Homo sapiens: one gene and its partners. The protein of the gene in region 3 purifies or fractionates together with the protein of the main gene of each other region. This does not show direct contact. Each region holds a gene or a part of one and is shown on either strand. Other genes may lie near its edges.

What was found.
Region 1: the proteins of CHST7 (region 3) and DCAF4 purify together in Homo sapiens (co-immunoprecipitation; one large-scale study listed by IntAct). This does not show direct contact.
Region 2: the proteins of CHST7 (region 3) and GOSR1 purify together in Homo sapiens (affinity purification with mass spectrometry; one large-scale study listed by BioGRID and IntAct). This does not show direct contact.
Region 4: the proteins of CHST7 (region 3) and NSUN4 purify together in Homo sapiens (affinity purification with mass spectrometry; one large-scale study listed by BioGRID and IntAct). This does not show direct contact.

Annotation. Positions count from the first base shown.
Region 1 is NC_000014.9:72,957,428-72,960,239, forward strand, and holds the end of DCAF4 (DDB1- and CUL4-associated factor 4), read left to right. Parts: intron 1-1,184; coding exon 1,185-1,378; 3' UTR 1,379-2,276; downstream 2,277-2,812. UniProt on the Homo sapiens protein: May function as a substrate receptor for CUL4-DDB1 E3 ubiquitin-protein ligase complex.
Region 2 is NC_000017.11:30,480,366-30,483,937, reverse strand, and holds part of GOSR1 (Golgi SNAP receptor complex member 1), read right to left. Parts: intron 2,796-3,572; coding exon 2,681-2,795; coding exon of another isoform or gene 2,675-2,680; intron 1-2,674. UniProt on the Homo sapiens protein: Involved in transport from the ER to the Golgi apparatus as well as in intra-Golgi transport. It belongs to a super-family of proteins called t-SNAREs or soluble NSF (N-ethylmaleimide-sensitive factor) attachment protein receptor.
Region 3 is NC_000023.11:46,591,352-46,594,923, forward strand, and holds part of CHST7 (carbohydrate sulfotransferase 7), read left to right. Parts: intron 1-3,572.
Region 4 is NC_000001.11:46,350,739-46,354,310, forward strand, and holds part of NSUN4 (5-cytosine rRNA methyltransferase NSUN4), read left to right. Parts: intron 1-2,129; coding exon 2,130-2,290; intron 2,291-3,572. UniProt on the Homo sapiens protein: Mitochondrial RNA cytosine C(5)-methyltransferase that methylates cytosine to 5-methylcytosine (m5C) in various RNAs, such as rRNAs, mRNAs and some long non-coding RNAs (lncRNAs).

The DNA of each region.
Region 1 (2,812 bases), on a different chromosome or scaffold from region 3:
TCAGTCTTCAAGAATTGTCACCTCTACTGGTATTCCTATAGAAAGGGCTTATACCCCATGGAACATTTTTGTGGCTAGGAAGCATTACTTTGTTAGGACATTCATAGACTTATTTACTATTCTCATCAACACCAGGACTTCGCCTCCTTTTTAAGTCGATTTTTCACCTGTTTTTATCACAGAAGAGCTCTTGTGAGCTGGATGATAGAGAGAGCTCAGCCTTGCTGAGAGGCAGATGCAGGTAGTTACCAGCTGCAGTAATAAACTGCAGCCGGGATTCAGCTTCAGCCAAGATAGCACTTCTGGTCTTAGAGCCACACAAGTGATCAGAATCACAAATGTGAAATCCATGACTGCCCAAGGCCTGTCCTCTTCTCCTGCTGAAGGTCTCCAGTAGTGTATATCATGTTTCTGGGCTGCTGTAACCCATGCTGTTGTGTGTCACAGTCCTCAGAACTGGAGCCCTGAAGACTTAAACCGGTCCTAGGAACTGAAGCATTAAACCAGAAAGAGCTGTGGGGAGAGTTGTCAACCTAGCCCATCCCCAGGATGTAATGACTTTGACAGATCTTTTACTATAACATGAAAAGATCAGGCCAGGTGTGGTAGCTATAATTCCAGCACTTAGGGAGCTTGAGGCCAGGAGTTTAAGACCAGCTGGGGCAACACAGCAAGACCCTATCTCAAAAAAAAAAAAAATTAGGCATGGCGGCACACACTTGTAGTCCCAGTTAACTCAGGAGGCTGAGGCAGAAGGATGGCTTGGGCCCAGGAGTTCAAGGCTGCAGTGAGCCCTGATCACACCACTGCACTCCAGCCCGGGCGACAGAGCAAGACCCTGTCCCTAAAAAATGGGGGAAATCAGTTGCATGTCACCTAGACCAGGTGGGCCACACTCGCACTTGAACGTTCCGTGACATCAAGAGCAGCAGAATACCCAGACATTAGCCAGGATGTCTCCGAGCCATTCATGGCATCACACAGCCAACCAGGGCATCTTGTCATTGTTCTAGCACAACAGGGCGACTTGGGTTATCCGTAGAAATACTGTCCGTTAATGAGTTTGTGTTTTGGCTCACATGAAATCACAGCCCTGAGGAATCTTGGGAAGCCATGTCCACATGTAGGTAAGTTTTCCTTTGCATTCTCTCACTAGCCTGCCATGTGTCTCTCCTCTTTCCTAGTGGGCCAGGACTGCTACACGAGAATCTGGAGCCTCCACGATGCCCGCCTACTGAGAACCATACCCTCCCCGTACCCTGCCTCCAAGGCCGACATTCCCAGTGTGGCCTTCTCGTCGCGGCTGGGGGGCTCCCGGGGCGCGCCGGGGCTGCTCATGGCTGTCGGGCAGGACCTTTACTGTTACTCCTACAGCTAATTCTGCAGGGCACAGCCCAGAGCCATGTGGATTTGACTTACGGGAGTAAAGCGTAACTTTTTACTGCATCTAATGAGGGTGTTTTAAGTGACACTCAGTGTACACAGATCCCATCCTCTGGCTGCTAGGAGAGAAGTGCTGAATGTTCCGTGTGGAGATGCTCAGGAAAGTTATTTGAGTTAAATTGCTGGCTGAGAGAGCTTGGAAGTCCTTTTCATAAAAGGTACCTCTTTCCTTTTCTTATTGAATTCTTAGAACTTAGTTAACCCTCCCTGCCTTTTCTTAACAAAAAGGACTTTTCTAAGGACTGAAGATTGGCAAAAACGAAAAGCTTCTTCCTCCAAGAGCCCATTGAAGAAGCCCAGTGATGAGACGGTGAGATGGTTTGAGTCCTCGGTGCCTGGGTAGCAGGAAGAAAGACCTGCATCCTGCATCTGTACTTGGGGAAGCCAGCGGAGAGGACGGGGAGGTTACTTCTCTAAGTTTCTGCAGAAATATTGAAGGCTGGAGTTTGGAATCCTTAAACTTGGCCTTCTCAAACTCAGCAGCAGATCTCCGGGATTCTGCTGTTATTATCCAAAGGCGTTGGAAGGAAAGATGGATCTTCTTACATGCTAGAAGTTTTAAACGGTCCTTAACATGCCTTTGTTCAAGCACCTTCCAGAATGTAAGGTTCAGCAGCTCTGGTTTCTATTACGGTGACTTGAATGTCAGATTCAAGGGCCCGGCGTCAAAGGAAATTGGTTTTGACTTTTTGTAATCTAGGAGCGACAGTTCGTGAGATGTTTATTCAGTGTTAAAGAGCCTGTTTTTCTACCAAACAATAAAACCAAGAGAAGAATCATGGTGTGACATGCACTTCTGTGAATGACTTAGGAGATCATGAGCTTGGGCTGCTGGGACCAGCTTTCATAGCCTTCCTGGAGAGCTTCCCTGGGCCCCTCCAGACCCACTCTGCCCTCATCATCTGTCCATCTCCACCCTGCTCTGTGCATGCCCAAAAGACTCACCTCTGGACTAGGTCAGGGTTCCCTGGCTCCCAGCAGCTAGGTAGGTTCAGCCAGTGGGAAGCAGCAGTAGAACACAGAGGGCAAGAGGAGAGGGAGTGGTTCCCCGGCTCCCTTCTGGTTGGGCTGTGGGTGGCTGTAACCAAAACCCACCACTTCTATTGGAAAGCGCTCAGAGAGAGCCGGGTTCCAGCAACTCTTCATTTGTCCCTTCAGACCTACAGCTGGTCATCACACCTCACTGTTGCTGGCCCAGAATGCCTCACTAGGTAGACTCGCAGTTACCCACTTGAATGTTTCCTGCCAGTACCCTGACTAATACAGCATATTCTATAAAGAACCAAATTTTTTTTTTTTTTTTGAGATGGTGTTTTATACTTGTTGCCCAGGCTGGAGTGCAATGGCGCTCTCACCGCACCCTCCACCT
Region 2 (3,572 bases), on a different chromosome or scaffold from region 3:
AGGAACTGGCTTTAAATCCAATATATACAGCCATGTCCTGCATGCTTTGGTACTAATCTTCTCCATTTTCACTTACAGTATGCAATCATCCTTTTGTTTTGTAGAATTGTGTTAAATTGCCTTTTCAAATCTGAATAGTCAAAAATCTATCTTTTTACAAGTGAAACTTAGGTTTGACAGATTCAAATTCTAAACCCACCTGTCCTCAGTGTTTCTTTTGCCTTTTCCAAAACACCACTAACCTTCATCAGGTTAGGTATGTATTAGCATCTGATGAGCAGCTCAATACAGATCAGAGTTATACTGGACACAGATAAATGCCCAGGCAATGACTATAGTCTCCAATCTTACTGAAGACTTTGTGCTACCCTGTGACAGTGCCTGGGTGTGGCAAATGAAAAGTATTAAATAAATGCTCTGTAGACTACTAATATAAATCCTCCTCTACCAGATATATGAAAAAGAACAATATGCCAATAGAATTAAAGCTTCATGAAGGAAGGAAAAAACTGCTCTGTCTTATTCATAGATATATGCCTAGCACCTAGTATACAGCCTGGCACATAGTAGATGCTCATTAAACTTCTGCTGAATAAATGAATGAACACGAGAGCAATCTCTACTACTGGTTATTCTATACTCATTGTATTCATATATTCATCAGGACAGTGTAAGAGTAAAGGGAAATGGCCAAACACTAATTCTTCACAATACTGGGATTCAGTTAAATTTAATTCATCTTATAGGTGGGTAATGATTCATAGACCTTGAAGTTCTCAAAATACAGAAAGTTAAAAAAAAAAAAAAAAAGAAAGAAAGATGCCTGGAATAAATAATATTCTAGTTATTGCTTAGTTGACTCATAGTGACATGCTTCCAACCTGGGCATCAAACAAGACACTTTAGAATAGACATCAAATCCTGATCCTCATGGCCTTAGGTTTTTATTTAGAAGGGGAGTTAGGCTGAAGTAATTCTACAAAGCCAGTTTCAGTTTGTGGTAGAATTTCTTGGGAAATGTTTTCAAGATAGTTTTTCCTTTAGAGGAATAACAAAAGTATTAGTTCATGAAGCACACAGAACATAGAAAATGCATAGAAAGAACATTCTTCATTCTCTTTACTTGCTAAATAAAGCCAAGCCCAAAGCAATGCAATCTATTTGATGTGTTAGTAATTTATTTTTAGATCCTAGAGTCAATGTTGGCCTTGCTGCCTTTACAACCAAGGAGTCCTTATGAAAAAGAAATAGTAATTTGGCTATAGTGTTGAAATCAGCTTTTTGTTCAAATGTATACACTATAGTAGGGTTTAGAGTGTGGGCTCTGGAGATAGATCTAGATTCAAATCTAAGCTCAGATTTCATTGTTTTTATTAGCTGACAAATATCCTACTCACTTCTAATCTTTGAAAAAGTATGTAAAATAAGTGTGGATTAACAACAACTCTGCTACCAGCAATTTCACCGCTAGGTATATAGAAACATTCTGCGTAAAAATGTTCCCAGCAGCATTTATAGAAAGCTCTTACCTAACATATAATGAACACTCTTATGTCAGCTATCAAAATTATTATTAATTAGCAAAAATTAGAAACAATGGCCATCATCAAATGGTTAAACTGTGATAGTCATAAAATACTACATATGAATTACAAATGAATATACCAGAGTTAAATGAATCCATAGCTGAATCTCAAAAATGTTAAAGAAAAAGTTGTAGAATAACTATATTATATATATACTATATAACATAATAGAATACTATGAATTGCTCAGGAATATAAACATGCAGTAAGAATATATGTGGATTATGGGGTGGGAGAAAGTGGGGTGCCATAAGGGGCTTCAGTGGAATGAGTAATTATCATTTTTTAAAAATGGGAGATAGGGTCATGGGGGTTCATGATATTATTCTTTGTAACTGTCTTAAATATTGCCTAATTAAAAAATTTTTTTTTATTTCTATTTTTTTTAGAGACAGGGTTTCACCATGTTGCCCAGGCTAGTCTTGAACTCCTGGGCTCAAGTGATCCATCCGCCTCAACCTCCTAAAGTCCCGGGATTACACGCGTCATCTACTGTGCCTGGCTACTCCCAATATTTTCTTGAAACAAGTGGATGACTTACAGAGAGCATAAGCTTCAAAGATAAGAATGTATTTTCCATACATTTAATATGGTAATACACTAGTTTCCCAAAAAAGTACCAAAATTAAAGATAGCTTTGATAATTAATAACAAGGATACACAGTGCATTAGATACCCTCTAATACAATAAACACCAGAAAAGCAGTATGTATACCTGGCACCTGGGTAGATCCACAGGTCCATTTAGCAATTGAAAAACACAAGAAATACATGCCACACGGGCAAATCAGCCACCTTTTCCCTACACTGGCTGAATTAGACACTTATATTTTTGATACAAACTTATTCTGAAGTTCTAGCAGGTTTCTTCTGACACTGTAACAATCTTTGCCTAAGGATTCCAAATAAATGCTAGTCTCGAGAATTCAGAAGAATTTTAATAAGTCACTAAAAAATAAAACAATGAATGGCAAAACAAAACACCAAAAATTCACCAATAGACCAACTTACAGAAGTTATATATTTTAGTTTATTTTTTAATGCTTTAAAAACACAGTTAAGGCATAGGAGACAGAATCTGGTAGTACCTATACCTGTCGCGTCTTCCATCTCGGGTACTGCTATGACTGTAACTTGTACATAGTTTGCTGAAGGAAACTAGTTTCAGGTCAAGTTCATTTTCCAGCTGTCGAGCCTGTTTCCTGAGATCTTTAACAAAATTATAACAACAAATAATTAGACATAAAAAGTAGACACAAAAATCACAGCACCATTCTAAAGAAAACAAACTATGAAAATGATCATATACTGATCTTGTTACCCCCATAAAGAAAAGTGTTGGCTGGGCACGGTGGTGCACGCCTGTAATCCCACCACTTTGGGAGGCCAAGGTGGGCGGATCACCTGAGGTCGGGAGTTTGAGACCAGCCTGATCAACATGGAGAAACCCTATCTCTACTAAAAATAGAAAATTAGCCAGGTGTGGTGGCGCACGCCTGTAATCCCAGCTACTCGGAAGGCTGAGGCAGGAGAATCGCTTGAACGCAGGAGGCAGAGGTTGCGGTGAGCCAAGATTGCGCCATCGTACTCCAGCCTGGGTAACAAGAACAAAACTATGTCTCAAAAAAAGGAAAATAAAAGTCTTAAAAGAAGGAAACCAAGGACTTGCCCAGCAAAGCAGATTAGTCACTTATAAACTTCAGAGGGGGCAAGAAGGGAAATAGTAATGGTAGATGCAACTTCGCAGCTTTACTCCAAAGATGGCTAGAAAACAAATGTTGTTCTATCCTTCCTGAAACTATTTGTATAGCAATAACTAAAATTCTGCAATTCAGAGAAAAACAAGAAGATAATACAAATCACAAAGGAACTAAAAATATGGTTTATGACCAGCATTATCAACTTACCAGTTAATGTTATAAGAAAGAAGCCATTATTCTTTTGAAAGGGATTTTGCTTTTTATGTTCCAAAGCTTTATTAGGCTT
Region 3 (3,572 bases):
TATTGTCACTATATTTCATTTTATTTTTATTTTATTTTTTTCAGATGGAGTCTCACTCTGTCGCGCAGGTTGGAGTGCAGTGGTGCGATCTCGGCTCGCTGCAACCGCTGCCTCCTGGGTTCAAGCGATTCTCCTGCCTCAGCCTCCCCAGTAGCTGGGATTACAGGGGTGCGCCATCACACCCAGCTAGTTTTTGTATTTTTAGTAGAAACAGGGTTTCACCATGTTGGCCAGGCTGGTCTGGAACTCCTAACCTCAAGTGATCTGCCCGCCTCAGCCTCCCAAAGTGCTGAGATTACAGGCGTGAGCCACCGCGCCTGGCCGAGATTTCTTTTTTTAAAAAAAATCTCTTTTTTATTTTATTTTACTTTAAGTTCTGGGATATATGTGCTGAACATGCAGGTTTGTTACATAGGTATACATGTGCCATGGTGGTTTGCTGCACCTATCAAGCCATCATCTAGGTTTTAAGCCCCGCGTGCATTAGATATTTGTCCTAATGCTCTCCCTCCCATTGCCCCACACCCCCTGACAGGCCCCAGTATGTGACGTTCCCCTCCCTATGTCCATCTGTTCTCATTGTTCAGCTCCCACTTATGAGTGAGAACATTTGCTGTTTGGTTTTCTGTTCCTGTGTTAGTTTGCTGAGGATGATGGTTTCCAGCTTCATCCATGTCCCAGCAAAGGACGTGAATGAGATTTCTTTTTCAAGAGCCTTTTAACTATTAATTCAATTTTTTAGTAGTTACAGGACTTTTCAAATTATCTATTTCATATTGGGTGAGTTATAGTAGTTTGTGCTTTTTGAGGAATTGGTCCATTTCATCTAAATTGTCAAATTAATGGATGTAGAGTTGTTTTTAGTAATTTTTTTTTCTTTTGCCTTTTAATGTCTGTGGTGTCTGTAATGAAAACCCCTGTTTCATTGCTGATACTGGTAATGTTTGTCTTCTCTTTTTCTGTTGTCAGTCTTGATAGAAGTTTTTTGTTTGTTTTCTGTTTTTGTTTGTTTTTGTTTTTTGTTTTGTTTTGTTTTGAGACAGGGTCTCACTCCCATTGCCCAGGCTGGAGTACAGTGATGCAATCTCAGCTCACCCGCCTTCTGGGTTCGAGCAATTCTCCTGCCTCAGCCTCCTGAGTAGCTGGGACTACAAGTGCTCGTCACCACACCCGGCTAATTTTTGTATTTTTTGTAGAGACAGGGTTTTGCCATGTTGGCCAGGCTGGTCTCGAACTCCTGGCCTCAAGTGATCCACCCGCCTTGGCCTTCCAAAGTGCTGGGATTACAGGCATGAGCCACTGTACCTGGCTGATAGAGGTTTTTTGATCTTTTCAAAGTACCAGCTTTTTGTTTCATTGTATTTTGATTGTTTTTGTTTTCAGTTTTACTGATTTCTCCTTTTATCTTAATTATTTCCTTACTTCTGCTTGTTTTGGGTTTTTTTAATCATCTAGTTTCTTGAGGTAAGTACATAGATTATTGATTTGAGATCTTTTTTTCTCATGTATGTATCTAGTGTTACACATTTTCCTCTTAGCTTCACAAATTTTGATGTTGCATTTTCATTCAATATAGTTTTATTTTCAATGAATTATATTTAAGTATGTTCTTTAATTTTAAAATTTCTGGATAATTTCCTGCTATCTTTCTGTTATTGACTTCTAGTTTGATTACACTATGGTTATTTAATTTATTATTATTATTTCAATTTTTAAACATTTGTTCAGATTTGTTTTGTGGACCAGGATAGGTTCATGTTGTGAATGTTCCATGTATACCTAAAAATAATGTGTATTCTGTTAATAGGTGGAATGTTCTATAAATGTCAGTTCAATTCTGTTGGTTGATGGTACTGTTCAGTCCTTCTGTATCCTTACTGACTCTCTGTCTAGTGAGTCCATCATTTGTTGAAAGAATGGTGTTGAAGTTTTCAACTATAGACTCGTCCATTTCTTCTTTCTGTTCTTTCAGTTTTTGCCTCAGGAAATTTGAAGCTCTGCTATTTGCTCTGTACATATTTAGGATTGCTATAACTTGTTTTTGGATTGACCTTTTAAACCTTATGTAACATTCTTCTTTGTCCCTGGTAATTTTCTTTGCTCTGAAGTCTATTTTATCTAATATTAATATAGCTACTCTTCCTTTCTTTTGATTAATGTTTGTATGGTGTATCCTTTTCAGCCTTTTACTTTCAGCCCATCTCATTATATTAGAAATTAATGGTAATGTTTTTAAATCCATTTTGCCAATCTCTTTTAGTTTATGTATTTAAACCATTTATACTTAATCTAATTATTGATATTTTAGGACTTCAATTTGATTTGTTTGTTCCCTCTGTTTTTATTCCTTTGTTTTCCTTTTCCTGTCTTCCTTTGAGTTACTTCAACATTTTTTAGAATTTCATTTTATCTGTAGTGTTTTTGAGGGTATCTCTTTGTATGTTTATTTTAGTGGTTTCCTTGAATTATACATGTGTAACTTATCACAGCCTACTGGTGTCAACATCTTACTACCTCCAATGAAATGTAGAAAACTAATCTCCATTTAGGTTCCTTTATCCTGCCCCTTAAATAGTCTCTTAAAAATTTTCTCTACATATATTGAGAACCACATCATACAATGTTACTTTGCCTCAACCATCAAAAATAATTTTAAAAACTCAAGAGAATAGTTTATTAAATTTACTCATATTTTACCTTTCCGTTGTTCTTTCTTCATTTGTGATATTTCAAGCCTCCTTTTGTCATTTCCTTTCTCTGGGGAAGAACTTTAGCAGTTCTTTTATAAAAGTTCTGTTGGCAAAAATTATCTTAGTTTTCTTTCATGTGAAAATGTCTTTATTTCACCTTCATTCCTGAAGGATATTATCATGGGATATAGAAATCTGGATCGAGGCTGGGCACTGTGGCTCACTCCTGTGATCCCAGCACTTTGGGAGGCCAAGGCAGGTGGATCACTTGAGGTCAGGAGTTCAAGACCAGCCTGGCCAACGTGGCGAAACCCCATCTCTACTAAAAATACAAAAATTAGCTGGGTGTGGTGACGGGCACCTGTAATCCAGCTACTTGGAAGACCAAGGAATGAGAATCATCTGAACCCAGGAGGCGGAGGTTGCAGTGAGCCAAGATCACGCCACTGCACTCCAGCCTGGGTGACAGTGAGACTCTGTCCAAAAAAAAAAAAAAAGAAAAATCTGGATTGGCAGATATTTTCTTTCAGCACTTGAAAACTGTCGTGTCACCTCCTTCTGACCCCCATGCTTTCAGATACAAAATCCGTTGGCATTCATATTGTTGTTCCCATAATTAATGTGTCATTTCTCTCTAGTTGCCTTCAGGATTTTTTTGTCTTTACTTTGCTGAAGTTTGACTATGCCATGGCTTGGTGTAGATTTCTTTGAGCTTTTCTTCTTTGGGGTTTGCTCAAGTTCTTGAATCTGTAAATTTATGTCTTCTGCCAAATTTGGGAAACTTTCAGCCATATTTCAAGTACTTTTTCAGTCTCTTTTTCTGGAACTTTGATGACATGCATGATAGATCATTTATTATGGTTCCACAGGCCCCTGAGGCTC
Region 4 (3,572 bases), on a different chromosome or scaffold from region 3:
GTATGGAGGCTCCACAATTATCAGGGACTTAAGCTCCCTTTTTCCTTTTGCAACGTATTTTGTTGCTAGTGTCAGCCTTAGCCTCCCTCCCTTTAAGAGGGAGAAGATATGTAACTAGTAAAGCTCTAAGGCAAGGCCTCATGGTCCAGAATGACTGCTGGAAGTCCAGCCATCACATCCATATTTGAGTCAAGAGGAAAGGATTGGGCAAAAGAGACTCATTTCATCTCCCAATTATGTCAGCCTTTTAAAAATATCTTCCCAGAATTCCTATCCAATACTTATGCCTACAACTATGACCAAAAGTTAGTCATATAGTCATACTTAGTTGTAAAAGAAAGGCTTAGCCGGGTGTGGTGGCTCACACCTGTAATCCCAGCACTTTGGGAGGCCGACGCAGGCAGATCACCTGAGGTCGGGAGTTCAAGACCAGCCTGACCAACATGGAGAAACCCCGTCTCTACTAAAAATACAAAATTTGCCGGCGTGGTGGCGCATGCCTGTAATCCCAGCTACTCGGGAGGCTGAGGCAGGAGAATCGCTTGAACCCGGGAGGCGGAGGTTATGGTAAGCCGAGATCGCGCCATTGCACTCTAGCCTGGGCAACAAGAGCGAAACTAAAGAAAGGTTGAGAAATGTAGTCTTTTGGGGCAATTTTCCCCTTCCAAAAAATTGGGGTTCTATTAATAAGGAGGAAGAGGAGAATGATTTTGGCTAAATAAACTGTAGTATCTACCAAAGATGAAGAGAGCCATAGGTTTCCAGAATAGTGGGAGAGCATATTTTTTTAGAAATAAATATTCTTGGCTGGGCATGGTGGCCCACACCCATCATCCCAGCACTTTGGGAGGCTGAGGTGGGAGAATTGCTTGAGGCCAGGAATTCAAGACCTACCTGGGCAACATAGTGAGACCCAGTCTCTTTTTTTTTTTTTTTTTTTTTTTGAGATGGAGCCTTGCTCTGTCGCCCAGGCTGGAATGCAGTGGCGCCATCTCGGCTCACTGCAAGCTCTGCCTCCCGGGTTCACGCCTTTCCCCTGCCTCAGCCTCCCGAGTAGCTGGGACTACAGGTACCCACCCCCATGCCCGGCTAATTTTTTGTATTTTTAGTAGAGACGGGGTTTCACCATGTTAGCCAGGATGGTCTCGATCTCCTGACCTTGTGATCCGCCTGCCTTGTCCTCCCAAAGTGCTGGGATTACAGGTGTGAGCCACCGTGCCTGGCCTTCCAGTCTCTTTTTAAAAAATTATTTAAATATATTTTTATTTTTGTAGAAATGAGGTATCGCTATGTTGCCCAGGCTGGTCTTGAACTCCTGGGCTGAAGCAATCCACCTACTTTGGCGTCCTCCCAAAGTGCTGGGATGAGAGGCGTGAGCCACTATGCCCAGACTCAGAGACCCTGTCTTTAAAAAAAAAAAAAAAGAATGTGGCTGGGTGCAGTGGCTCACACCTGTAATCCTAGCACTTTGGGAGGCCAAGGCAGGCGGGATCACCTGAGGTCAGGAGTTCAAGACCAGCCTGGCCAACATGGTGAAATGCTGTCTCTACTAAAAATGCAAAAATTAGCCGGGTATAGTGGTGCACACCCATAGTCCCAGCTACTCAGGAGGCTAAGGCATGATAATCACTTGAACCCAGGAGGTGGAGGTTGCAGTGAGCTGAGAGTGTGCCACTGAACTCCAGCCTGGGCGACAGAATGAGACTCTGTCTTAAAAAAAAAACAAAAGGAAAGAGAGGGAGAGAAAGAAAAGGAGAGAAAGGAAAGGGAGGAAAGGGGAGAGGGAAAGGAGAGAAGAAAGGCGAAAGTAATGGGGAAAGGAAAAGGGGAAAGGGGAAAGAAAGGGGAGAAAGGGGAGAGAGGACAGGAAAGGAGAAAGGAAAGGAGTCTTACTTGGTCTGCTTTATTCATTGACTTAAATAACTTTGATACTTTCTGGCCCATTTAGGTGTTTGCCATTGTACCCCCACTCAGAATGACTGATGCTGTGCCATGCACATAATAAATGTTCCTGATGCTGGGGTTTGCATTGGCTGGGACTACCTGAGAATTGGTCTGACTCCATCAGCGCCATTGCTGGTGGAATGTTTCATTGGGTCATGGCCTCTGAAGTATCTTTATTTCCATAGGCAATCTTGCTGCCAATGATCTCTCCCCGTCCCGAATAGCCAGACTACAGAAGATCCTTCACAGCTATGTGCCTGAAGAGATCAGGGATGGAAATCAAGTTCGAGTTACCTCATGGGATGGCAGGAAATGGGGAGAACTGGAGGGGGACACCTATGACCGGGTGAGTGATTCTTGATTTAGGACATGCATCCAGCTTAATGCGGCCTCCCCATCCTGGTTCTAGGGCCTGAGGGGTTAGGATCCAGCCCCTATGTTTGAGCATGTAGAGCTGTTTCTGGACTGGCCAGTTCTACATTGGTGATTTGACCAAAAGAAAAATCAGCTTAGATGACTGGTTATTATCTCTATTAAAGATAGTTGGCAGCAAAAAAGAATTTGAAACTATTTGAGTAGGGGAAAAATTTACTAGGCTTACTTTATTTCTCAAGTCACTTGGTTGCTCAGAAAGCCTCATGAAGGTAAGTAAGAATAAGCTCATTTATTTATTTTTGAATGTTAGTACAGCACATGGTACAAAATTCAGAAGGCACAAAAGAGTATCCAATGAAAAGTGAGTTTTTCTCATCTGGCCTGTAGCCCCCTACTTCCCCACCCTATAGATAACGATTGTTTCTTTTTTTTTTTTGAGACGGAGTTTCGCTTTTGTTGCCCAGGCTGGAGTGCAATGGCGCGATCTCTGCTCACTGCAGCCTCCGCCTCCTGGGTTCAAGCAATTCTCTGCCTCAGCCTCCCGAGTAGCTGGGATTACAAGCGCCCACCACCACGCCCGGCTAATTTTTGTATTTTTTTTAGTAGAGACGGGGCTTCACCATCTTGGCCAGGCTGGTCTTGACCTCCTGACCTCGTGATCCACCCGCCTCGGCCTCCCAAAGTGCTAGGATTACAGGCGTGAGCCACTGCGCCCAGCCGGTAGTATATTATATTATACTCACTATTCTGAACTTTGTATTTTTTTATTTAATAATGTGTCCTGGGGTTAAATCCTTTTTTAATTTTGTTGACATTGTGGAAGTATAGTTGTTGAATAACAGTTTACATCCATTTAAGATTTTGATAGCGATTGCTAAATTTCTCTGTGGAGGTTAAACCAGTTTCACTCCTACTGGTAATGAATGAGTACTGATTTCCCACATGCTGCCAATATTGGTGCTATCAAACTTAATTTTTTTGCCAAATGGATAGTATCTAATTTACAATCTCTTATTAATCATGTTGAAAATCTCCATATTAATTTTTTTAAAGTTTTTTTTTTTTGAGTGGCAGGTTTTCACTTTGTCACCCAGGCTGGAGTACAGTGGTGTGAACACGGCTCACTGCAGCCTCAACCTCCTGGGCTCAAGGGGTCCTCCTGCCTCAGTTTCCCGAGTAGCTGGGACTAGAGTGTGCCACCATGCCCAGCAAATGATTTTTTGTAGAGACGGGGTCTCACTATGTTGCCCAGG